2 separate regions of the Homo sapiens genome follow, and region 1 is linked to region 2. The links come from fine-mapping of genetic effects on gene expression. A gene starts in region 2. The other region holds a variant in brackets. All regions are shown on one strand. Distances are between the middles of the regions.

Region 1 (11,670 bases), 110 kb after region 2:
CCCAGCCCCCACCCCAGATCGCAGCCTCCTCGGTGCCTGGGGACCCTGGAGCTGGCCCAGAGGAAGGTTTGCCATCGTCAGGTCGTGACGGAAGCCTCTTCTGGCCAAGCACACAGTCGGATCATCTGTTTCTCAGCCAGGAGGTGCTGGAAAAAGTAATCATGTCAGAGCAGCTTCAGGTCCATCCATGAGTCCCAAAGTCTACCTGAAAGGATGGATACTGTGAAAACCAAGTGTGAAAAGCAGTAACTATTTTATGTGAACCAGTAATGAGTTAACATTTAGGGAAAACATTATTGAACACTGCCACACGGCACATCTCTCCCGTCTCCATGATACACATGTTTGGCAGCTGGAGCAGGTGGTACCATGACAGGCTGTGGCTAACCGTGGGCCTGCATTGAGTTCATCATCGACTTTAAAACTGGAAGATGGAACAGACACTTACCCCTGTTCCTCCCACTAAGTGCAACCAAGATCCCTGGACGTTATACATAAAACAGGAAGACCGAAGGTGAGAGAAGAGAGCCACCAGCAGGGCCCTCGGGACGGAGCCACAGCCCCAAAATGGTGGTGATCGCCTAGGCTTGCTTTCGGCCTCATTTTCTAGACTTGGGGGTGAGGAAACTGGAAACCCAGTAATGCCAGCAGATGCAGACAAGAAACACCTCAACAAAAATCTGCTCTCTCTGACTAAAGGGCCAGAAAAGAGCAGCCTAGCAAGACAGGAAATTTACATAAAATAATCACCACTCCAGGCAACACCACAGAAAAAACCATGGCCCCACCCACACCAGCAAGGTATGGAGTAGGGAGCCTGGACTCTCCTCCAAACGGCTCACTGGGATGCTACCAGAGGAGGCCAAATAGGAAGCTGAGATTTTCATCCAAGTGGGCAGGAAGGATCCCCCGCTTCTGTGGTATCAGTGGAGACCACACGAGGAGCCTGGACTCCCCCAACCCCTGGCAGTACTGAAGGGCTCCTCCCCTCCAGAGTGGTATTACGTAATAGCTACCAGAAAGTCAGGACCTTCACCACCACCCAGCCAGCAATGACTAGGCCACCCCCGCCATAGTGTCATGGAGGCCTAGTGCAGAGCCACGACTCCCACCCTACCCAGAAACAACAAGGAATACTCCCAATGCGTCCACTGGAGTTCTACCCCAACCTGGCAGGAGCAAGGTAATACCCCTGTCTCTACCAGCATGAGGTCAGAAGAAGTCATCTAAAGCAGAAGGTTTAAATAAGATCCAAAATCTCCTAATACACAAAATGTTCAGTTTTCAGTGGAAAAATTACTTGTCACAGCAGGAAACAGGAAGACATTGGTGAAAAAGGACAGTCGACAGATGATAGCACCAAGATGAGGGAGGTATTAGAGTGACTTCACAGAGATGTGAATGCAGCCGTCGAAAACGCATGCAGTAATTATGAACACAACTGATAAAAAATACAGCCTCAGCAAAGAAATCGGTTTTTTAAAGAACCAAATGAAAAGTTTAGAAGTGAAAAATATAACTGACACAAAACACTCGACATCTGAATGGTGAGGACAGAGGAAAGAATCAATAAACTTAAACATAGAAAGTACCCAGTGGGAACAAGTGAGAGGACATAGACGGGGAAAAACAGCAAGAGCCCCAGGGATCTGTGGGACTGAGACTGTAACAGAAGATCCAGAATTCATGTCATCAGAGTCCTAGGAGGAAGACAGAGTGAGCTTTAGGGCTGAAAATGTACTTGGAGAAATAAGAACTGAAAACTTCCCAAATTTGGCAAAACGGACAAACCTACCGAGTCAATAAACTGAGCAAACCCTAAATAGGAAAAACCCAAAGAAATTCAAACCTAAACACATCAAAGTCAAATTTCTAAAAACCAGAGATAATAAAACATTGCCAGCCTGGCCAACATGGTGAAGTCTCGTCTCTACAAAAATAAAAAATGAGCGAGTATGGTGCCACACGCCTGTAATCCCAGCTACTCAGGAAGCTGAGCAGGAGAATTGCTTGAACCTGGGAGGCAGAGGTTGCAGTGAGCCGAGATCACACCGTTGCCCTCCAGCCTGGGCAACAGAGCGAGACTCAATCTCAAAAGAAAAAAGAAAAGACATGGGTAAATACAATAGACGTTCCTTCTCTTGAGTTCCAATCATGTTGGATGGTTAAGCAAAGGCTATAAAACTGTCTGAAGTAGTTCAAAGTTTATGTAGAGGAAGTAGTTAAGATAACTATAAATGGATGAGGGCAAATGGACATAGAGGTGAGGTTTCTATGCTTAACTTGAAGTGGTAAAATGACATCAGTAGACTGTAAGTTACGTGCCAAGAACAGCCAGTAAAAAACAACCTATACTAAGAGATACATTGGAACACACTATTGACAAATCAAAATGGAATTCTAAAACACTTACATAACCCATAGGAAAGCAGGTTGGGAAAAACAAAGAAATCAGAAACAGAACAGATGGGAAGAAGTAAAATGACCGACTGTATATTCAATGTAAATGGTCTAAATAAGCCAATTAAGAGATAAAGATTGGCCAGGTGCAGTGGCTCACTCCTGTAATGTCAGCACTTTGGGAGCTGAGGCAGGTGTATCACTTGAAGTCAGGAGTTCAAAATCAGCCTGGCCATCATGGCAAAACCCTCTTTACTAAAAATACAACAATTAGCCAGGCATGGTGGTGCATGCCTGTAATCCCAGCTACTCGGGAAGCTGAGGCTACAGTGACCCAAGACATGCCACTGCACTCCAGCCTGTGCGACACAAGACCCTATCTCAAAAAAAAAAAAAAAAGATAGTAACTTAAATATATGCATAATGAGCTTATGCCCTGATAAATGCAGCATAAGTTGAAAATGTAAGTCAAAAATGAGTTTAATACACCTACCAAACATCCGTCGTAGCTCAGCCTAGCCTACTACCTTAAACGTGCTCAGAACACTTACATTAGACTACACTGGGCAAAATCACCTAGCACAGGCCTGTTTTGTAATACAGTGTTGAATATGTCATTTACTGAATACTGTATGGAAGTGAAAACAGGATAGTTGTCTGGGCACTCACAGTGCGGTTCCTACCGAGTGCGTATCCCTCGCACCATTGTAAAGCTGAAAAACTGTCAGTGGAACTCTCATAAGTTAGGGACCCTCTGTATAGGCAGGTTGAAAGTAAAAGGATAGAAAAAAATATGTGACTATTAATGAAAATAAAGGATTCATTGTATTAACCTCAAAGTAGACCTCAGTGCAAAAATTATTGGAGACAAAGACGGACAATGAGAAAAGAATCAACCTGCCAAACAGATGTAGCAATCCTAAGTGTGTGCACTAAGCACAGATCTGCAAAACATGTGAAGAAAAAGAACTGAAAGGAGAGCTCGACAAATCAACAATTACGGCTGGATGTTTCAACACCCTTCTTTCAACAATAGGTAGAATAACTAGATGGAAATTCAGCAAGAACATAAAGGAGCACCATCATCGACAGGCAGGGCCTAATGATGTTTATAGAATATGCCACCCATTGCACTGAATGACATGTCACATTTTCTGGGATGTAGTTAAACTAGTGATGAGAGAGAAAGCACCAAATGCATACATTAGAAAAGAGACCTGAGATTTTAGAAAGAGGAAGGATCTCAAATCAATAATCTGACATCAGCTGGATGCCGTGGAAGCACCTGTAGTCCCAGCTACTCAGGAGGCTGAGGTGGGAGGACTGTGTGAACCCAGGACGTTAACGCCAGCCTCTTGGCATCAGGCAGCACAGGAAGACCCCATCGCTTAAAAAATAATAATAATCTAGCTCAAGATCACATGAATAACTAGGAAAAAATTTAAAGCAAGGAGCAGTAAGAAAATAGTAAAAAGCAGAAAATGAAACTGAAAACAAACAATAGAGAAACTTATTGAAACAAAGAGATGGTTCTTTTAAAAGACCAATAAAATCAGCAACCCTCTAGTAAGAATAACAAAAGGAGAAGATACGATTGCCAATATCAAAGATGAAAAAAGAGGTTGGGTGTGGTGGCTCATGCCTGAAATCACCGCACTTTGGGAGGCCAAGGCGGGTGGATCACCTGAACTCAGGAATTCAAGACCAGCATGGCCAACATGGTGAAACCCGGTCTCTACTAAAAATACAAAAACTTGGCTGGGCGTGGTGGCAGGTGCCTGTAGTCCCAGCTACTTGGGAGGCTGAAACACGAGAATTGCTCGAGCCGAGACTGCAGCACTGCACTCCAGCCTGGGCGACACCACAAGATTCTGTCTCGAAACGAAAAAGAGATATCACTACAGACCCTGCAATCTGAAAAGGATAATAAGCGACTACGACAAACATCTACATACATAAATTTTATAACTTGGATGAAATAGACCAATTCCTCAAAAAACACAAACTACCACAACTCACCTGGTATGAAATAATAATTTAAATAGCCCTATAACTAGAAATTGAATTTGTCATTTTAAACTCCAAAAAGAAATATCCAGGCTCAGATGGTTTCACTGGAGAATTCTAAGATTAATTTCCCAGAAAATAGAAGAGAAGGAAAAGCATCAATTTACGTTTTATTTATTTATTTATTTATTTTTTGAGACAGGTTCTCACTCTCTGTCACCCAGGCTGGAGTGCAATGGCACAAACATGGCTCACTGTAGCCTCGACCTCCTCAGCTCAAATTATCCTCCCGCCTCAGCCTCCCAGGTAGCTGGGACCACAGGCCCACACCACCACGCCTCACTAATTTTTTTAGTTTTTGTAGAGACAGGATCTTGCCATGGTGCCCTGGCTGGTCCCAAACTCCTGGGCTCAGGCAGTCCTCCCACCTCAGCCTCCCAAAGTGCTGGGATTACAAGCATGAGCCACTGTACCCAGCCTCAATTTATTTTATGAAGCTAGTGGTTCTCTGATACCAAAACCACACAAAGATAATACAAGAAAATAATATTACAAGCCAATATCCCTCAGTGATATAGACACAAAATTTTTTAACAAAATATTACTAAATAGACTGGGCACAATGGCTCACACTTGTAATCCCAACACTTTGGGAGGCCGAGGCGAGCAGATCACCTGAGGTCAGGAGTTCAAGACCAGCCTGGCCAACATGGTGAAACCCCATCTTTGCTAAAAATACAAAAATTAGCTGGGCATGGTGGTGGCTGCCTATAATCCCAACTACTCGGCAGGTGGAGGTTGCAGTAAGCAGAGATGGTGCCACTGCACTCCAGCCTCGGCAACAGAGTGAGACTCTGCCTCAAAAAAAAAAAAAAAATTACTAAATAGAATTTGCCAATATATAACAAAGAATTCTATGCCATGACCAAGTAGGGATTATTCCAGGGATGAAGGTTGGTTCCGTATTTGAGAATCAGTCGATGAGATCCACACGTTACCAGCTACCGAAGATAACTCACACGATCACATCTGTCAGTGTTGGGAAGGCCCGTGACAAGTTTAACATCTATTCATGATTTAAACTTGGAAAAACAGAGAAGGAGAGGAACTTCCTCCGCTGGATAAAGAGCATCTGTACAAGCCCTGCAGCCAGCATTCTCCTCGAGGGCAAGGAATCACCCTTCACCATTCAGATCCGGAACAAGAAAGGACGTCTGCTCTAACCATCGGATCCGGCATGGTGCTGGAAGCGCTGGGCACTGCAGTACGCAGGACAAGGAAAGAAAAGGCGTGTCGATCACAAAGGAAGAAACGAAACTGCCTGTTTACAGATGACGCCGTTGTCTTTGTAGGAAATCCCAAGGTATCCACCAAAAACACTCCTAGAATTATGAAGCGAGGCCGGGCGCAGCGGCTCACACCTGCAATCCCAGCACTGTGGGAGGCCAAGGCAGGCCAGTCACCTGAGGTCGGGAGTTCAAGACCAGCCTAACATAGAGAAACCCTGTCTCTACTAAAAAAAAATTCAAATTAGCCAGGTGTGGTGACGCATGCCTGTAATCCCAGCTACTCAGGAGGCTGAGGTAGGAGAATTGCTTGTACCGGGGAGGCAGAGGTTACAGTGAGCTGAGATTGCGTCACTGCACTCCAGCCTGGGCGACAGAGTGAAACTCCATCTCAAAAAAAAAAAAAAAAAAAAAGAAAGAAAATTAATAAGTGAGTTCAGCAAAGTCAGAAGACACAAGATCAACCTAAATGATTCAATAGTATTCCTGTACGCTAGCAATGAACACACAGACACCTAAATTAAATACGCAGAACCACTTAAAACCACTCCAAAAAGCGAAATACTTAGGTATAAACCTGACAAAACATGCACAGAACTTACATGCTGAAAACTCAGCAATGCTGCTGAAAGACGTCAGCACACACCTAGAGACACGGCCGCGTTCGTGGGTTGGAAGATACAACAACGTGGAGATGACAGGTCCTTCCAGATTGATGGACAGGTTTAATGCAATTCCTATTAAAAAAAAAACCCAGCAAGATGTGTTAATAGGTAAGGACAAGTCATCCCAAGTTTTCTATGGAAATGTAAAGGAGCAAAAATAGCTAAAACCATTTTGAAAGAGAACAAGGTGGAACGAATCAATCTACCCAGTTTCAAGACACAGAACTACAGTAGTCAACACAGTGTAGTATTGACAGAGGGACAGACATGCAATTCCATGGAACACAACAGAGAACCCACAAAGAGACCCAAACAAACATGCCCGGATGAGTTTTTTTTACAAAAGCGCAAAAGCAATTCCATGGACAAAAACAAAATCTTCGACCCACGTCTCACCCCACACAAAAATAACTCAAAACGGATCCTGGACTTCAACGTAAAGCATAAGACAATCAACTTTCAGGGCCAGGCATGGTGGC[C/T]CACATCTGTAATCCCAGCACTTTGGGAGGCCAAGGTGGGCAGATTGCTTGACCTCAGGAGTTTGAGACCAGCCTGAGCAACGTGGCAAAACCCCGTCTCTACTAAAAACACAAAAAATTAGCAGGGCCTGGTGGCACATGCCTGTAGTCCCAGCTACTCGGGAGGCTGAGGTGGGAGGATCACTTGAGCCTGGGAGGCAGAGGTTGCAGTGAGCCGAGATCACACCACCACACTCCAGCCTGGGCAACAGAGCGAGAGCCCATCTCAAAAAAAAAAAAACTTTCAGGAAAAAATAGAAGAAAATCTTTGGGATCTAGGGCCAGGCAGAGTCATTATACTTAAAGATGATCTGTGAAAGGAAAAATTAATTGAAATTCATTAAAATTAAAAGCATTTGCTCCATAAAAAGACCTGTTAAGAGAACAAAGATAATTTTTAAGCTACAGACAGAAAATATTTGCAAGTCACGTATCTGACAATAGTCTAAAATCTGGAATATGTAAAGAAGTTTCATAACTTAATACTAAAATAATCTTATTAGAAAATGAGCACAGAGACGTTTCACCAAAGAAGGTGCACAGATGACAGATAAGCTCAGGAGAAATGCCTGTCATTAGAGAAGCAAAAACCACCATAACACCACTGCACACCCATCCGGTACCATCACTGCACACCCATCCCGTGACACCACTCACACCGATCCCGTGACACCACTGCACACCCATCCCGAGACACCACTCACACCCATCCCGAGACACCACTGCACACCCATCCCGTGACACCACTCACACCCATCCCGAGACACCACTCACACCCATCTCGTGACATCACTGCACACCCATCCCGAGACACCACTCACACCCATCCCGAGACACCACTGCACACCCGTCCCGAGACACCACTGCACACCCGTCCCGAGACACCACTGCACACCCGTCCCGAGACACCACTGCACACCCGTCCCGAGACACCACGCACACCCGTCCCGAGACACCACTGCACACCCGTCCCGAGACACCACTGCACACCCGTCCCGAGACACCACTGCACACCCGTCCCGTGACATCACTGCACACCCGTCCCGAGACACCACTCACACCCGTCCCGTGACAACACTGCACACCCGTCCCGAGACACCACTCACACCCGTCCCGAGACACCACTCACACCCGTCCCGTGACACCACTCACACCCGTCCCGAGACACCACTGCACACCCCTCCCGAGACACCACTGCACACCCATCCCGAGACACCACTGCACACCCGTCCCGAGACACCACTGCACACCCGTCCCGTGACAACACTGCACACCCGTCCCGAGACACCACTCACACCCGTCCCGAGACACCACTCACACCCGTCCCGTGACACCACTGCACACCCGTCCCGTGACACCACTGCACACCCGTCCCGAGACACCACTCACACCCGTCCCGAGACACCACTCACACCCGTCCCGAGACACCACTGCACACCCGTCCCGTGACATCAGTGCACACCCGTCCCGAGACATCACTGCACACCCGTCCCGAGACACCACTCACACCCGTCCCGTGACACCACTCACACCCGTCCCGTGACATCACTCACACCCGTCCCGTGACACCACTGCACACGCGTCCCGTGACACCACTGCACACCCGTCCCGTGACACCACTGCACACCCGTCCCGTGACACCACTGCACACCCGTCCCGTGACACCACTGCACACCCGTCCCGAGACACCACTGCACACCCGTCCCGAGACACCACTCACACCCGTCCCGTGACACCACTCACACCCGTCCCGTGACACCACTCACACCCGTCCCGAGACACCACTCACACCCGTCCCGTGACACCACTGCACACCCGTCCCGTGACACCAGTCACACCCGTCCCGAGACACCACTCACACCCGTCCCGAGACACCACTCACACCCGTCCCGTGACACCACTCACACCCGTCCCGTGACACCACTCACACCCGTCCCGAGACACCACTGCACACCCGTCCCGAGACACCACTGCACACCCGTCCCGAGACACCACTCACACCCGTCCCGAGACACCACTCACACCCGTCCCGAGACACCACTGCACACCCGTCCCGAGACACCACTGCACACCCGTCCCGAGACACCACGCACACCCGTCCCGAGTCACCACTGCACACCCGTCCCGAGTCACCACTCACACCCGTCCCGTGACACCACTCACACCCGTCCCGTGACACCACTCACACCCGTCCCGAGACACCACTCACACCCGTCCCGAGACACCACTGCACACCCGTCCCGAGACACCACTCACACCCATCCCGAGACACCACTGCACACCCATCCCGAGACACCACTGCACACCCATCCCGAGACACCACTGCACACCCATCCCGTGACACCACTCACACCCATCCCGTGACACCACGCACACCCATCCCGAGACACCACTCACACCCATCCCGTGACACCACGCACACCCATCCCGAGACACCACTCACACCCATCCCGTGACACCACTCACACCCATCCCGAGACACCACTCACACCCATCCCGAGACACCACTCACACCCATCCCGAGACACCACTGCACACCCATCCCGAGACACCACTCACACCCATCCCGAGACACCACTCACACCCATCCCGAGACACCACGCACACCCATCCCGAGACACCACGCACACCCATCCCGAGACACCACGCACACCCATCCCGAGACACCACGCACACCCATCCCGAGACACCACTGCACACCCATCCCGTGACACCACGCACACCCATCCCGAGACACCACTCACACCCATCCCGAGACACCACTCACACCCATCCCGAGACACCACGCACACCCATCCCGAGACACCACGCACACCCGTCCCGAGACACCACTGCACACCCGTCCCGAGACACCACGCACACCCGTCCCGAGACACCACGCACACCCGTCCCGAGACACCACTCACACCCGTCCCGTGACACCACTCACACCCGTCCCGTGACACCACTCACACCCGTCCCGTGACATCACTCACACCCGTCCCGTGACACCACTCACACCCGTCCCGAGACACCACTCACACCCGTCCCGTGACACCACTCACACCCGTCCCGTGACACCACTCACACCCGTCCCGAGACACCACTCACACCCGTCCGGTGACACCACTCACACCCGTCCCGAGACACCACTCACACCCGTCCCGTGACACCACTGCACACCCATCAAAACGGCTGGAATAAAAGTAGCAACAACCCCACATGCTGGCAAAGATACCAAGAAATCGAGTCACTCGGCTGTTGCTGGGAGGGTAAAATGGCTCCTCAAAAAGGACACCCGAAGTTGCAGTGGACTCAGCAGCTGCTTCCATGGACGTTTAAGCCAGAGAGTTGAAACCCAGGTTCACGCAGAAACCCGTGCAGAGGTTTACGGCAGCCGTCACAGACAAAAACTGCAAAGAGCTCAGCTGTCCTTCCACAAGAGAGCGACCGCACAAACTAGGGTGCACTCACGCCGCAGACGCCGGTCAGCGACGAGGAGGAAGGAAGCCTCCATCACACGACCTGGCGGAACCTGAGAATTGGCGTGAGAATCGCCTGCCCCGCGGGTACGTGCCGCAGGGTTCCACTCATTCTTGAAATCATACGTTCTTGAAATCACACAAGGAGGCCGAAGGTCGGGGAGGGTGTGGAAGGACACGGGGGTCCGGGCGTGGATGGGACCCGTGTCTGTGGCCTCAGTGTCAGGCCCTGGCTGCAATCCCTACTATAGCTGTGCAAGATGCCCAGCTGTTGCCAGTAGGGTCTATTTCAAAAGGGCTGGGAGATCCCCTATTTTCAACACTCTCAAGCCCTCCGGGGCGGTGCCATGGCCTTCTCGGGTACTTTGTCTGCAGGAATGAAATGCAACCCTTCAGGCCGCTGGGGCCTGGGGCCCCTTCCCACCAACCTGCCAGTTGGCACAGAGGGTTCTGACCCTTTCCAAAACCCTTTCCAAACTGCAGTTCCAGCTCTTGATGTCAGAGACCAGGCCCTGGGCCCCCTAGGCCTTGACCCTGTCCTGGGAAGGAGCAGAAAGCAAGAGCAGGAATTTGGGAAAGATGGGCAATCCCACTGCAGGAGGCCTTCCCAGGATCCCCACCCTCCCGGCCTCACTAAATGCAGGGTTTGGGAGAGGGTGGGCCTGCCTGGGGACTGCATTGCCCTAGCAAGGCCCAGGAGAGTGTGCAGGGACCATGCTGCCCGCACAGCCCAGCGCCCTCACGGCCGCATTCCAGCCCGTCCCTTCAGTCTGCTGCTGAGCTGCTCAGAGGTCGACCTCGGGGTCCAGTGTGACTTCTCTGCCTGGCACCACCTGGCCTCAGTCCCCATGCTGGCCGCTGCCGTCCTTATAGCCAAGGAAAACCATGGCAGCCTCAGGCCCAAGGGGTCCAGGAAAGACCCCTGGGGCCCAGGGCAGTGGGCAGTGCCCTCCTGGAGTGGACGGGAGCCACCAACTGCCAGCATCACCCTCAGTCTTGGCTGCCCGGGAGGTTTTCCAAAGGCCCGACCCCACTCCTCTTGGAGCTGCTGATCCCTCTCTCCCATCAGGCGCCTCAGGGACCCTCCTCCACCCAGAGGGTCTCTGTCTTCCCGGTTTTCCTGGCGTAATTCAGACTTGGGGAGAGAAGAATCATCATCCATCACACACCCAGACCCAAAGAGACTCAAAGCCAGGAGGAGCCGGGTGGACCCAGAGGCCCTCACCCTGCCAGCCTAAGGGGCATGGCCCAAGGTCTCCACCCCCAGCCCCCAGAGCACAGCTGTGTGCAGGTCACCAGAAGCCCCAAATAATGACAGCAGCCCAGACAGTCG
Region 2 (11,670 bases):
CTCAGGCGGGTACGAGGGGCAAAGTGGGAGCAGGGAGCGTGCTTCCTCTGTGGCCTTGGTTCAGACAACAGCCTTCAGCAAAGCTTTGCTCTAGAGGCTCATAGGAAGGGACAGAGGGCACAGGCCCAGCTCAGCCTTTCCCCTGCCTTTCTTGGGGCCTGGGCATGGACAGCACCGCCTGGCGACACACAACGGTGGGCTCTGAGGCTGTTTGTTACGCAGCATTAATGTGGCCGTCGGTGACCGCTACACGGTGACTGATAACTGCACTGTGGGTAGAGCTCAGCCCGCAGGGCTCTGGTTTGTGACCTCTGGGCCAGGCAACTCTCAAGGCTTCTTCCAGTGCAGAATATGATTCCTAGAGAAAAAAAAAAAATTACACATTCGTTTCCTAACATAGGGCCCTGCAACCGGAGAACACCACCACATTGGGAGCTGTGCTTTCCACTGTCTAGAAACCATGGCTTGCCAGCTTGCAGGGTCACATGGAGCCGCATCTCCTTCTGGGGTGCAGGGGTGGGAACACTCGTGACCTGTAGCCGAGGGTGCAGGGAGAGGACAGGGTGAGCCAAGCAGAACAGCCGTCTGTGAGTCATCGTCCCAGGACAACCAGCAAATGGCACAACACCTGCTCTCTCAGCCCCCACCCGCACCTGCCAGCCTCACGTGGGGGGTGGGGGGGTTGGCCGCTGGACAGTCACAGCAGGATCTGCCCAAACTGACCACCCTTCCAGGAGGAGGCAACAGATGTTAGCATCCACGGGTCCTGGGCCCCCCTTCCATACCCAGACTTCAGGACATGAAAAATTGGGGTAAATGAAGGGTGCACGATTATCTTCGGGCCCACACTGGCTTCCTGCGGGTGCCAGAGACAGCTGCCACCGCATGCCAGGGACAATGGCCCCGAGGAGGCGGGAGCTGCCAGGCCGGGGTGCTGGGGGACAGCTGGACGAGGTGCCGACAGGGGCTCATTCCTCCCTGAAGCCGGCCCGCAGCTGCTGGGAGCGTGGCCAGCCACGGGCTTGTGTGTGCCTGGGTCCTGGGGGCTGTGCTGGCGCAGGCCGGGACGGCGGGGACAGGGTCCCACCTAGGGCAGGCTGGTCGGTCTCCGGGGAGGCAGCCCAGTCTTCAGCCTGCGTGCTCTTGGGGTGTCCGTCCCTTCCTCCCCATTCTCCTCCTCTTCTCAGCGTCTTCTCCCCCAGCACCGGGCAGCCCTGGGGTGGCCGAGCCTCATCTCCACTCCCCTCCCTCAGGCCTCTCCTGGGTCAGCCTGGCTTTTTCTCTTAGAGTTTTTGCTTGACAGGGCACTCTCAGGACGCCCTCCTCCTCCTCCCGCCTCGGGTTGGTGTGAGGCGCTCAGGGCAGGGCCCACGTGCCTGTGGTCACAGGACACTGAGCTGCAGGGTGAAAGGACCACACCTGGCCGATCTCCCGGCCGCTGCAGCTCACTCTGGGTTTGCAGAGAAGCCTGTTTTTAAGTGAAGTGCCTTCTTAGAGAATAAGACACACCTGTATCTAAATGTTATTTTTAAACTGCTAGATGCGCCTTAATATAGACAAAGAAGTAAGGTGAGCGTAAATGACATGATGTATTCCGACAGGTGACAGCGCCTTCCGGGCGATTCTGAAACACCAGTGCAGGGCTGTCTGTTGTCTTTTGTTTTCATTTTACTTTTTTTTTTTTTTTTTGAGACAGAGTCTCGCTCTGTCGCCCAGGCTGGAGGGCAGTGGCACGATCTCGGCTCACTGCAAGCTCCAGCCCCCGCGTTCACGTCATTCTCCTGCCTCAGCCTCCCGAGTAGCTGGGACTACAGGCGCCCGCCACCATGCCCGGCTAATTTTGTTGTTGTTGTTGTATTTTTAGTAGAGACGGGGTTTCACCGTGTTAGCCAGGATGGTCTCGATCTCCTGACCTCGTGATCCACCCGCCTCGGCCTCCCAAAGTGCTGGGATTACAGGCGTGAGCCCCGGTGCCCGGCCTCATTTTACTTTTCTAAAATTCGAGGCGAAATTCACATAGCATGAAATAAGCCATTTGCCAGTGAACGACTCGGTGTTTAGCACCTCACAGTGCTGGGCAGCCATCGCCTAGTTCCAGAAGATTCTCATCAGCCCAAAAGAAAACGTCCTACCCCCGGACCACTGGCTCCCCACTCCCCGTCCCCAGACCTGGACCACAGAGCTCCCTCCTTTCCCCGTGGCTTTGCCCACCCCGGACATTTCATGTAAATGGGCTCACGCAACTCATGACCTCCGCGTCTGTCCTGTCCCACTGAGCTTGATGTTCTGAGGTTCATCTGTGTTGTAGCACGTGTCAGAACTGGATTCCTTTTTATTTTATGTTTTATTTTAGTGAGACAGAGTCTCGCTCTGTGGCCCAGGCTGGAGTGCAGTGGCGCGATCTAGGCTCACTGCAACCTCCACCTCCCGGGTTCAAGCGATTCTCCTGTCACAGTCTCCCGAGTAGCTGGGATTACAGGTGCCCGCCACCACACCTGGCTAATTTTTTTGTATTTTTAGTAGAGGCGGGGTTTCACCATGTTGGCCAGGCTGGTCTTGAACTCCTGACCTCAGGTGATCCACCTGCCTCGGCCTCCCAAAGTGCTGGGATGACAGGCGCCCGGCTCCTGGATTCTTTTTGATGGCTGAATCATAACCCAGTGCACTTTTGATTAAATTCAGGCTGAAATGGGCACGACCAGAGCTGCTGGTCCACCTCTCCCCGGCCCAAGCCCTGCCCCCGGTGACCTGCTCTGGAGCCATTCTGGGCAGTGGATGGGACCCCTGCGGTCAGCGTCTCAAGAGAGCAGACCCTGAGGGAAACTTGAGCTCAGAGAGAACAGGAGCTCCCAGCAGACCCTTCCGCTGACTGCTCCCACCCTGGGCAAATGCAGAGCCGGAGCCCGGAGCGCTGGAAGCTGGAACAAGAGGCCCTTTTCTGCTCTGCACAATGCCCCATTGTGCCCTTCGCGGGGAGAGCAGCTCGGCCCAGCGAGGGGAAGCTGTGCACAAAGCCTCCTTGTGAGGGCAGCCCCACCTGAGGACAGCGCAGGGCCACACCTGACGCAGGGCAGTCCCTCTCGCCGTCCGTCCCCTAGCAGGCCTGGCACCCAGACAGGGCCCGCTCTGCAGGCGTGGTCCCAGGGTGTGGGGCTCCCTGTTCCCCACAGATGAGGGGAACAGTGTGGGCTGTGCCGGCCCTTCCTAAGCTGGCCCCCAGGTCACGAGGAGAGGTACGGGTCGTGGGCTCTGTGGAGGGACTTGGGTGCCGGGCGCCAGCCAGGGCCGATGCCTCCTGCGATCCCCAAGGCTCCGAGCCCTCAGGCACACACCACGCTCCCGGAGGCTGGGCCAGCATGCGGAGGATGTTTGTGTGTTCGTACCCGTTGCAACATCTTTAACAGGGTCCCATTTCACAGCTGGGCTCCTAAGGGGGGTTTCATAGAAAAGAAATGGAAACTAAAAATGAATTAAACCATAAGATGTACACGTATGCTACGGCCCCAGCAACACAGGGAAGGTGGAGGCTGAGAGGAAGCTCGGGCCACTGCTGGTCAGGCCTGGATTTGGGGGCCCGATGTCCACAGTCAGTCCCTGCCCACACAAGGCTCACACTGCAGGTGGTGAAGATATAATTAAACAGGTAATTAAACAAGCAATAAAGACGGGTCATTTGACCAACCCAGTGGCGATAATTGATACGCCAAAACACTAGGAAAGCTAGAGAGGCAAAAGAGAAGAATACATGAAAACAAAAACAAAAAACCAGGACAAATATTTCCAATATACACAAAAGAACAGGATTTTTCATACGTAAAGAGTGCTGACAAATGAATAAGGAGAAATCTGCACTTCCACCTAAGTGCCCCACAGTTTATTCACTAACCCCTAGGTCTCCAATGCCTACTCTAGCCTCACGCCCTTTCTTTCCTCTAAGGAATGCCTGTGACCCCAGCCCTTCCTAGCACCCGCTTCACATCAGCCTCCAGAACCCCGCTCCAGTCATCAGAGTGTAGAGTGCTGGCGTCCTCCTTCATGTTCTGTTTGGGGCATTGGGCAGTTAGCCCTTCCCTCCTGAGTCCTGAGTCCCCCTCTTCCCCCACAGCTTGAAGTCCAGTCCCAAGGGCAGGCAGGAGCTGGGTTGTGCAAAGGCGGAAGGGTGCTCAGGCTGGGAGAAAGGGGAGGGTCCCCCGAGCATTCCAGGCACAGCCCTGCCTACTCTGTCCCTTGCTGGCTGCGACGATCGCCCTAGCACCCTCCTCCGCAGAGAGTGAGTGTCAGCTGTGAGGCAGGGGCACGCAGTGGTAGCACCGCCAGGGCCTGTGCAGCCCACCTTCCCCAGGACCACAGCTGGGAAGGCGCCTGGCTGGGGGAGGGCACCTGGCCTCTGCAACTCGGACTGACGGAAGGCACGCGTGCCTGCCCCAGTGAGCTCGGGTCGGGCGACGCGCACCACCTCCCAGGTACCCGGCCCCGCGCCCTACCCGCAGCAGCGCCCAGCGAGAACTGCGAAGGAGGCAGGCTCCGGGCACCCGCTCCCGCGCGTGGGCGGGGCCGGCTGGAGGGGGCGGTGCCTCCGGGACTGTGAGCGGGGCCTCCCGGGGTGTGGGTGGGGCCTTCGGCCGTGGGCAGGGCCGGCCAGGGAGAGGCGGGGCCTCCGAGAATGGGCGGGGCCTCCGAGAATGGGCGGGGCCTCCGGGAGTGCGCCCTCCCCGCACATGCGCCCTGACAGCCCAACAATGGCGGCGCCCGCGGAGTCGCTGAGGAGGCGGAAGACTGGGTACTCGGATCCGGAGCCTGAGTCGCCGCCCGCGCCGGGGCGTGGCCCCGCAGGCTCTCCGGCCCATCTCCACACGGGCACCTTCTGGCTGACCCGGATCGTGCTCCTGAAGGCCCTAGCCTTCGTGTACTGTGAGTGCCGGGCGGGCCCGGGACATCCGCCAGTGTCACCTCCGCGCACCACGACCCCCGCCCTCCCTCGAGACTCCTCCGCGCGGTCTCGCGGCCGCGGCGCCCCCACGCAGCCCTCCTTCCTGCTGGGGCCCGGGCAAGGCGGGGCGGGCAGGGCAGGACAAGGCTTGCTGGCGACAGCGCACCCGGCCCTACCCCTGTCGCCGCCTCGAGCCTCCGGCCTGGGCTCCTGGGCTCCCGGTTCCACCCGCAGCCCCGAAGTTGCACGGCCGCGCCTGCCAGGACCGGCTCGGGGCTATGCGAGGCGGGGCCGGCCCGGGCCCTGGCCCAGGAGTTCCCAGGAGAGCTGGGCAGGTGGAGGGTCACCCGTCCGTGCGCAGGTCGGGGGTCTGCGTCCTGGCTGCGGGGCGGGGGGCGGCCTGGAGAGGCGAGGCGCTCCTGCTGTCCCCGACACAGCGCTGTGCTGACGGTGAAGGTTCCCACTGTAACTGGACGCCCGCACGCCACATCCCTGCCGCGTGCGGCCCCTGCCAAAATCCGAGGAGCCGGCCCGGGAGCCTCCTTCGCGTCTCCCAGGGGCTGAGGGAAGGTGACTGGCTGGTGGCCAGACTGGAGTTTCTCCTTTAGTGTTCTCGACTAGCTCAGTCTGCGTTCGGGAAGATTCCCAGCGGAGGTCTGGGGGCAGCTCCGGAACCTCATCTGCAAGTGAAGCCTGCGCCTCACTGTGGGATGTGGTTGGCCGGGTCCACTGGCGGAGACCCTTCACCCCACAGCTGTGCGGGGCCCGCGTGCGCAGCCTACAGAGCAGAGCTCTGAGAAAAGTCAGTTCACGCTCAAAACCTCTGGATCCCCTGGCCAGGGGCAGCTGGCGATTCCAACTCCCTCTCTCCCCAGTCCCTACAACCCAGAACTGGTTTGGAAGAGAACGGTTCTGTGATCACGGTGACATGTGATCACACGGATACATGTTTCATAAGCCCAACGTGTCAGGAGCTACGAACCTCAAGTGAGGCTCTCAAATGAGTATGGAAGTGAGGGGAGCCTGCCAGGCCGAGATGCAGCCAGCGGGGCGCGTGGGCAGTCACCGTCCCAGAGGGCTCCGGAGCTGCTGGCCCCGGGCGTTGCCCACGCGTTGGTTGTAGGCCGTGGGCATTGGACGTCTCCCTTTCCTTCCATCGTCTGCTTCCCTCACGTGTGGAAGGAAAGGGTCAGGTTGCAGAAGTTCTTCTTTGCACAGCCTTTGTGCCACACACGTCGCGGGAAGTTTGGTAGCCTGGTTGTGCTGGAGTGATGCTCAGTTCGACGTTTTGTGTGACATTTGTGTGATACTTTCCACCTCCTGGTGCAAAGTGATGAGACGCGCTCATCACTACAAGGTTTCCTGTGGGATTGCAGTATCGGCTTCAACTGGGTCTGTGTCTCTCTCTCTCTTTCTTTAAAGCAACTATTTTATTTTATTTATTTATTTTTTTCGAGACGGAGTCTCACTCTGTTGCCCAGGCTGGAGCGCAACGGCACCATGTCGGCCCACTGCAACCTCCGTCTCCTGGGTTCAAGCGATTCTCCTGCCTCAGCCTTCCGAGTAGCTGGGATTATAGGCACGCACCACCATGCCTGACTAATTTTTAAAAATATTTTTAGTAGAGACAGGGTTTCACCATGTTGGCCAGGCTGGTCTCGAACTTCTGACCTCAGGGCCTCCCAAAGTGCTGGGATTACAAGCGTGAGCCACTATGCCCGGCCTGCAATTATTTTAAAAAGTAGTTCTTCCCAGGTTGCTTTTCCCTCCACAGTATTAAACAGTCATTTTAAATGTTGGTGCTGTCACTTAGCAAACGATGAAGTAGAGATAAAGTGAAGCTGTGAGGCTCTAATAGGCCTTCCACAGGGGAGCCCGAGATACAGCAGGAAGTCCCAGCGGCCTTGCCTCCGGAGCACAGCTTCATAAAACCAGCTCAGACTCTTTCAAACGAGCTGAGGCTCCTTTGATCTCCGCAGGGATTCTCTGTTCAATTCAGAAGGAACTGCTTTTAAGCCACTGGGTCAAGCGGATATTTTAAGCCTGGTGCCCAGCATTGAACATTTCTCCTTGACATATGCACGTTCTTCTGTCTTGTGAGTACATTTGGGGTAGAATCAGTGTTTTTCTGCTGTATCAAGGAACCAGTTTCCCATCTTTCAGGGACATGGTTTTCTGGCTGAGCTGGCCCAGGGCAAGCAGGCAGTCATCCTGCATTTATCTCCTTCTAGAAAGTTCTGGATTTTACTGGGACTGTGCGCTACTCCCTGTTCCTCAGAATCCCAGGGTTTTTCCAAGTTGCCATAGGGGCTCTCCAAATATTTCACTTGATACTGAATTTTACAATGTTTATAGCTATTGAAACACTTGTAATTAAACACATAACCAAATGTATTCTGTGGAAACTCCCCTTGTTAAAAGACATTGAACTGAGGGAGGCTTACCCTTAGGCAGATTGTCTCAGCAGACATGTAGTAAAGATGTACAGATCAGGAGAACACAGAAACGCCTGCCCTGTCGGGGAAGCTTCGAAGCCAGACCTGGAGAGGCCGGCTGCCAGCGACAGGCCTCTGCATTCAACCTGACTTTGCATCCGTCCTGGGGCTGGCTCCTTCCCACCGCGGGCCTGGGCGTTTCCATGTGCTGCCACCGAGGTGTGTAGGTGCTAGGGGTGTGCTCACTGCACACAGACGTGCATACCGCGGGCGTCCTGGGGTGTCGGGCATGCCCTGCTGTGCTGTGGGAGCCGGAGTGTGTTAGCGGAAAGCGGCATTTTCACAGGGCTCAGAGTTGAAGACACACCTGTCTTCCTGACGTGTGGACTCGGGTCCCTAGTGTGATTACTGCGTTGAGCAGATGCTGAAGTAGCACCCTGCCCGGTGCTGACCTCCTGGTGACAACGCCACTACCCCCAGTGGACAGCGAGGAAGCAGGGTCAGCCACTGGCCCGGCTGTGCAGCGATTGTCCGTAGGCCCTGGAGTTCAGCCCTGCCCTTCATTCACGCCACTGTGCAGCCTGCGTATCCTGGACACCCGGTTCACATCTGGGCAGCGGCGTTCTCGGGCCGTGACGGCTCCTGGGAGGACCGAGGCTGCCCGAGGTGGTCGGGGATGCCTGACACTGACACTGAGCTTCCCCTCAGCACAGATGTCACTCCCAGGAATGGCTGAAATCTGGACGAGTAAAAGCTTATGTGACAGGAGTTTCCGGCCTAAGCAGCGGGACCTGGGTGCCATGTTCTTGGTGTGTAGGGGCAGTGCCGGCCGCCCATGGGTGCCGGTGCCTCCTGCAGTCAGGCCTGCTGCTGTCTGTGTGCGCAATAAGGAAACCGAACCCAAGAGTGGGCACCATGCCCAGGCTCACCGGAACAGAGGGCAGAGCAGCCTGGCCAGAATCCCTCACTGTTTTATGGCAGGAACCCCCAGGGTCGTGCGTCGACGTTGTGGCCCGGCGTTCCCTGCGGAAGATTGAGGCCCTCACTGGTCAACCCTGCAGTACGGGGGCGTGTGTGGCAAACAGCTGGTCTGGAGCCTCGTCAGCCAGGCCGGCTCCTTGATGCTTTGAAATCCCCCTCCCAGGGGGCCTGGCCAGGTCCGTCCATGGGCGGCCACAGGCAGCTGGGGCTGGACTCCTGGAATTTCCAGCAGCCCTGTGTCTGTTACAGCGCCAGTGGTAGAGCTGGATTCCCTGACAAGACGGGGGAAGGACAGCCTTGCAGGTGCTACTGAAGACACCCTAGGCTAGAGCTGCCCACCCTGGGTGGGTTCTCCTGGACTGAACTGACGTTGGTTTGCTATTGATGAGAGTCACATAGTATATGTACACAATGCATTTTAACTGCCTCAGAATTAAGGTGTTATCTGGAAACAGTGTAATTACAGTTGGTCAGAATTGGGTTGATAGCAGTTCACTGCAGAGAACTTTCTGGAAGCTGTGACAGGTGGAAGTAGTGGGGCTCAGGGTTGGTGGGCCACACCTTAGCTGTGTGGCCTTGGCCAAGTTGCTCATCAAGACCTTCCTGTCACTGATGAGGTGAGAGTGACCGCTGGGCCGTCCTGAGGCTGACATGGGATTCCTTGCCTGTGCACACTTCCCAGAAGGCGGACCAAGGACACACCCGCCTGGGAGACGGCTCGCAGGCAGCCACGGAGTATATATATCTGAACGTCGGAAAGGACCTTTCCTTTGAAGCTCAAACATTTATGAGATATTGTTACAATTCGGAAGGGATCTGTAGGTGAAATGTGACATGAAGACTGGGTAACGTTGGCATTTGCAGACTGACTTTATGTGTGGCACTTTTCGTGGGTGCCATGGCGTCGGCGCAGAGACACTCCTGAGGGATTTCGTCTGTCGGTCCATGTGTTTGTGGGGGCCGAGTCCTGGACAGGCCTAGGAGGGAACCGCCCCGGCCAGGGCCGGCTGCTCGGCGCCTGCACAGGGCATGAGTGCTGGGGGCTTTGGGACACACGCTCCCTGCTGCCTCTGGGGCAGATGTCCACCTGCACTGCTTGCAGTGAGAGGCTGGGGCCCCAGTGGACGAGCCGTGGTGCCTGAACTGCTCCCGCTGTGTCCCCGCCACGTGAGGCATCTCTTCCTGACCGTGGTCCTGAGACCACCTGGCCTCTGCCTTCCCAGGGTTAACTGTACTTGTTCTCTCCGTGGCTGCCGACACCCTTCTGGCCTTCAGACTTAGCCCTCATCACTCGTGGACTCCTGACCCCACCCAGGGCTGACCACCGGAGCCCTGCTCTCTGCTTCCTTTGCGGCTGATATTGTCCCCATTCCAGTGTTGTTCTTGTGCCTGTCTCCCCTCTAGCTCCTTGCAGTCAGGGAGAGGACTTTCTTTATACCTCTATCCCTTGTCTTCTAGGGGCATCTCCTGCTCAGTGAAATGTGCTGACCCGTAGCAGGTGGTCTCTACCAGGGCTTAGTGTCAGCATGGGACACTTTTCCAGCCATTACCCCTTCTTTCCCCTCTACCCACCTCCAGCCCCGAGGTGCGGCCCAGCAGGACAGATACTGCCACAGCCCTCCCTTGGTTGTGTTCATACTTCCTGGGCTGCTCATGCCTTCCTGTTTGCTGGTGGATTCTCTTTTTGCTGGAGTGTATCCCCAAGCAGCTTTTCCAGAAAGGACCAACTTGCCCGGATCTCTAATTCTCCATCAAAGCCACTTTCCCTCAGAGCTTTGCAGCATTGAGGAGGCATCTTCAAGCATCTGACTCTTCTTCTCCCTGGAAGCTTCTAAAGTCTCAGTGCCTTGCCCTCCTGCTCTCCACCTTTGCTCTCTGTTCTGGTTATTTATCGAGGAGTCTCTGAGGCTCTTTTTTTTGCTCTCTTGTAGTGGCCTTGGTGAGCTCTTCAGCCTCAAGGCTTGTCCTTGGCTCTGGATGAGGCTCTTCTGGCCTCTCCCCAATCTGCCCATGTGTTCCAAACACCGCATGCCCCAGCTGGGTTCCAAACAGGGCGGGTGGGGGCCACTCTCCTGTCTAGCTTCGTAGCGTGGGCTGAAACCTGGGAAAGTCTCTCCATGAAGCTGAATGGAGAAGAACATGGCTTCCGCGAGGCCCTAGGAGCCAAGCACCACACAGAACCCACCGCTTGGCTGTGATCCCGAGTGACGGGGACAGCCTGGACTGCAGAAGGAATGCCCAACGCTGGCGGGAACGGAGGGGCTTTTCTTGCTCGTCTTTCCAGTTCCACATTGTCACATTGGAGTCCTGGGCTCACTGAGATTATGTTGAAAATCCGACCTCTAGGGGATCTCCATGCTAGTTTTGTCCTTTAGGCGTGGAGGCATGCGTGCCGCACTGTGGCGTCTGTTCTGTGCGCCTGCTCACCGCCCTTCCTTCTTTTCCGCGTGGGGCAGTTTTATCGCGTCTCCCCGGCAGCTGCTTCGGCGAGGTGGGGCCGCGGTGCCATTGGTAGCGTGTCTCTGAGTCTCACCGCAGCCCTTGTAGCTTGGCATCCTCGTCAGATGACACCCGAGGCAGGGTTGACGTGGCAGGCAGAATCGTTTGCACCCGTATTTGCTAAACTCTCAGCTGTTCTTCAGAAAATTTGAGGAGAAAATGAAACCAAAAAGAATACTTGAAACCCTGCTCAGTTGGTTTTGTTCTGAGCTTTCAGTGGCTCTAAGAGCTCATGGGAAATGAGTTCTTTTTCTTTTCTCCGGGCCACTTGAGTTCTAATGAAATGCACCACTTGGTTTTACAAGTTCTTCTATAAAATACTTGCTTGTTTAAAAAGCAAACAGCACTGCCCTACTTCGGAGCTCTGCAGCACATCCCTTAAAGAAAAAATACTTGAGGTCACTGTGCTGAGGCCCAGAATTTAACCACGGCCAGTAAGAACCATCAACAGAGAACGGCATTTCTGGGATGACTGTTTTAATCTTACAACAATTTATCTGAAAGGAGAAAAGAGAAAGCTGATTTTTTTTTTCTGATTCTTTTTTTTTTTTTTTTTTTGAGACAGAGTTTCACTTTTTCGCCCAGGCTGCAGTGCAGTGGTGCAATCTCCTCTCACTACAACCTCCGCCTTCCGATTTCAAGAGATTCTCCTGCCTCAGCCTCCCGAGTAGCTGGGGCTACGGGCACAGGCTGCCACGCCCAGCTATTTCTTTCTGATTCTGAAACAAAGTATTTATCGGCCATGCCTGCTGTTGGCTGCTCGGGCGACACGGTATTTCCTCGGTATTTCCTCGTTGCAGCTCCCAGGTCAGGCTCTGGGTCCCT

The links. PIP is the estimated chance that this variant, and not a neighbour inherited with it, causes the effect. A credible set is the group of variants that fine-mapping cannot tell apart.
Region 1: its variant is the best candidate, but not a certain one, in a credible set for the expression of LMF1 in whole blood (INTERVAL, PIP 0.60).

The regions. Positions count from the first base shown.
Region 1 is chr16:855,792-867,461 of GRCh38, reverse strand. All of the region lies in intron 10 of LMF1 (lipase maturation factor 1), which reads left to right. Among named protein-coding and RNA genes, the nearest start is that of LMF1-AS1, 59 kb to the left of the region's middle. The variant C/T (reference allele first, on the strand shown) is at 6,838.
Region 2 is chr16:964,029-975,698 of GRCh38, reverse strand. LMF1 (lipase maturation factor 1) reads left to right here and starts at 4,715. Exons shown (of 11, transcript NM_022773.4): 1 at 4,715-4,911. The coding sequence starts at 4,719. It overlaps LOC124903620 (a long non-coding RNA gene), which reads right to left and starts at 1,630. Exons shown (of 2, transcript XR_007064935.1): 1 at 1,088-1,630; 2 at 1-358. RefSeq lists enhancers at 2,546-3,536, 5,519-6,510 and a silencer at 4,304-5,473.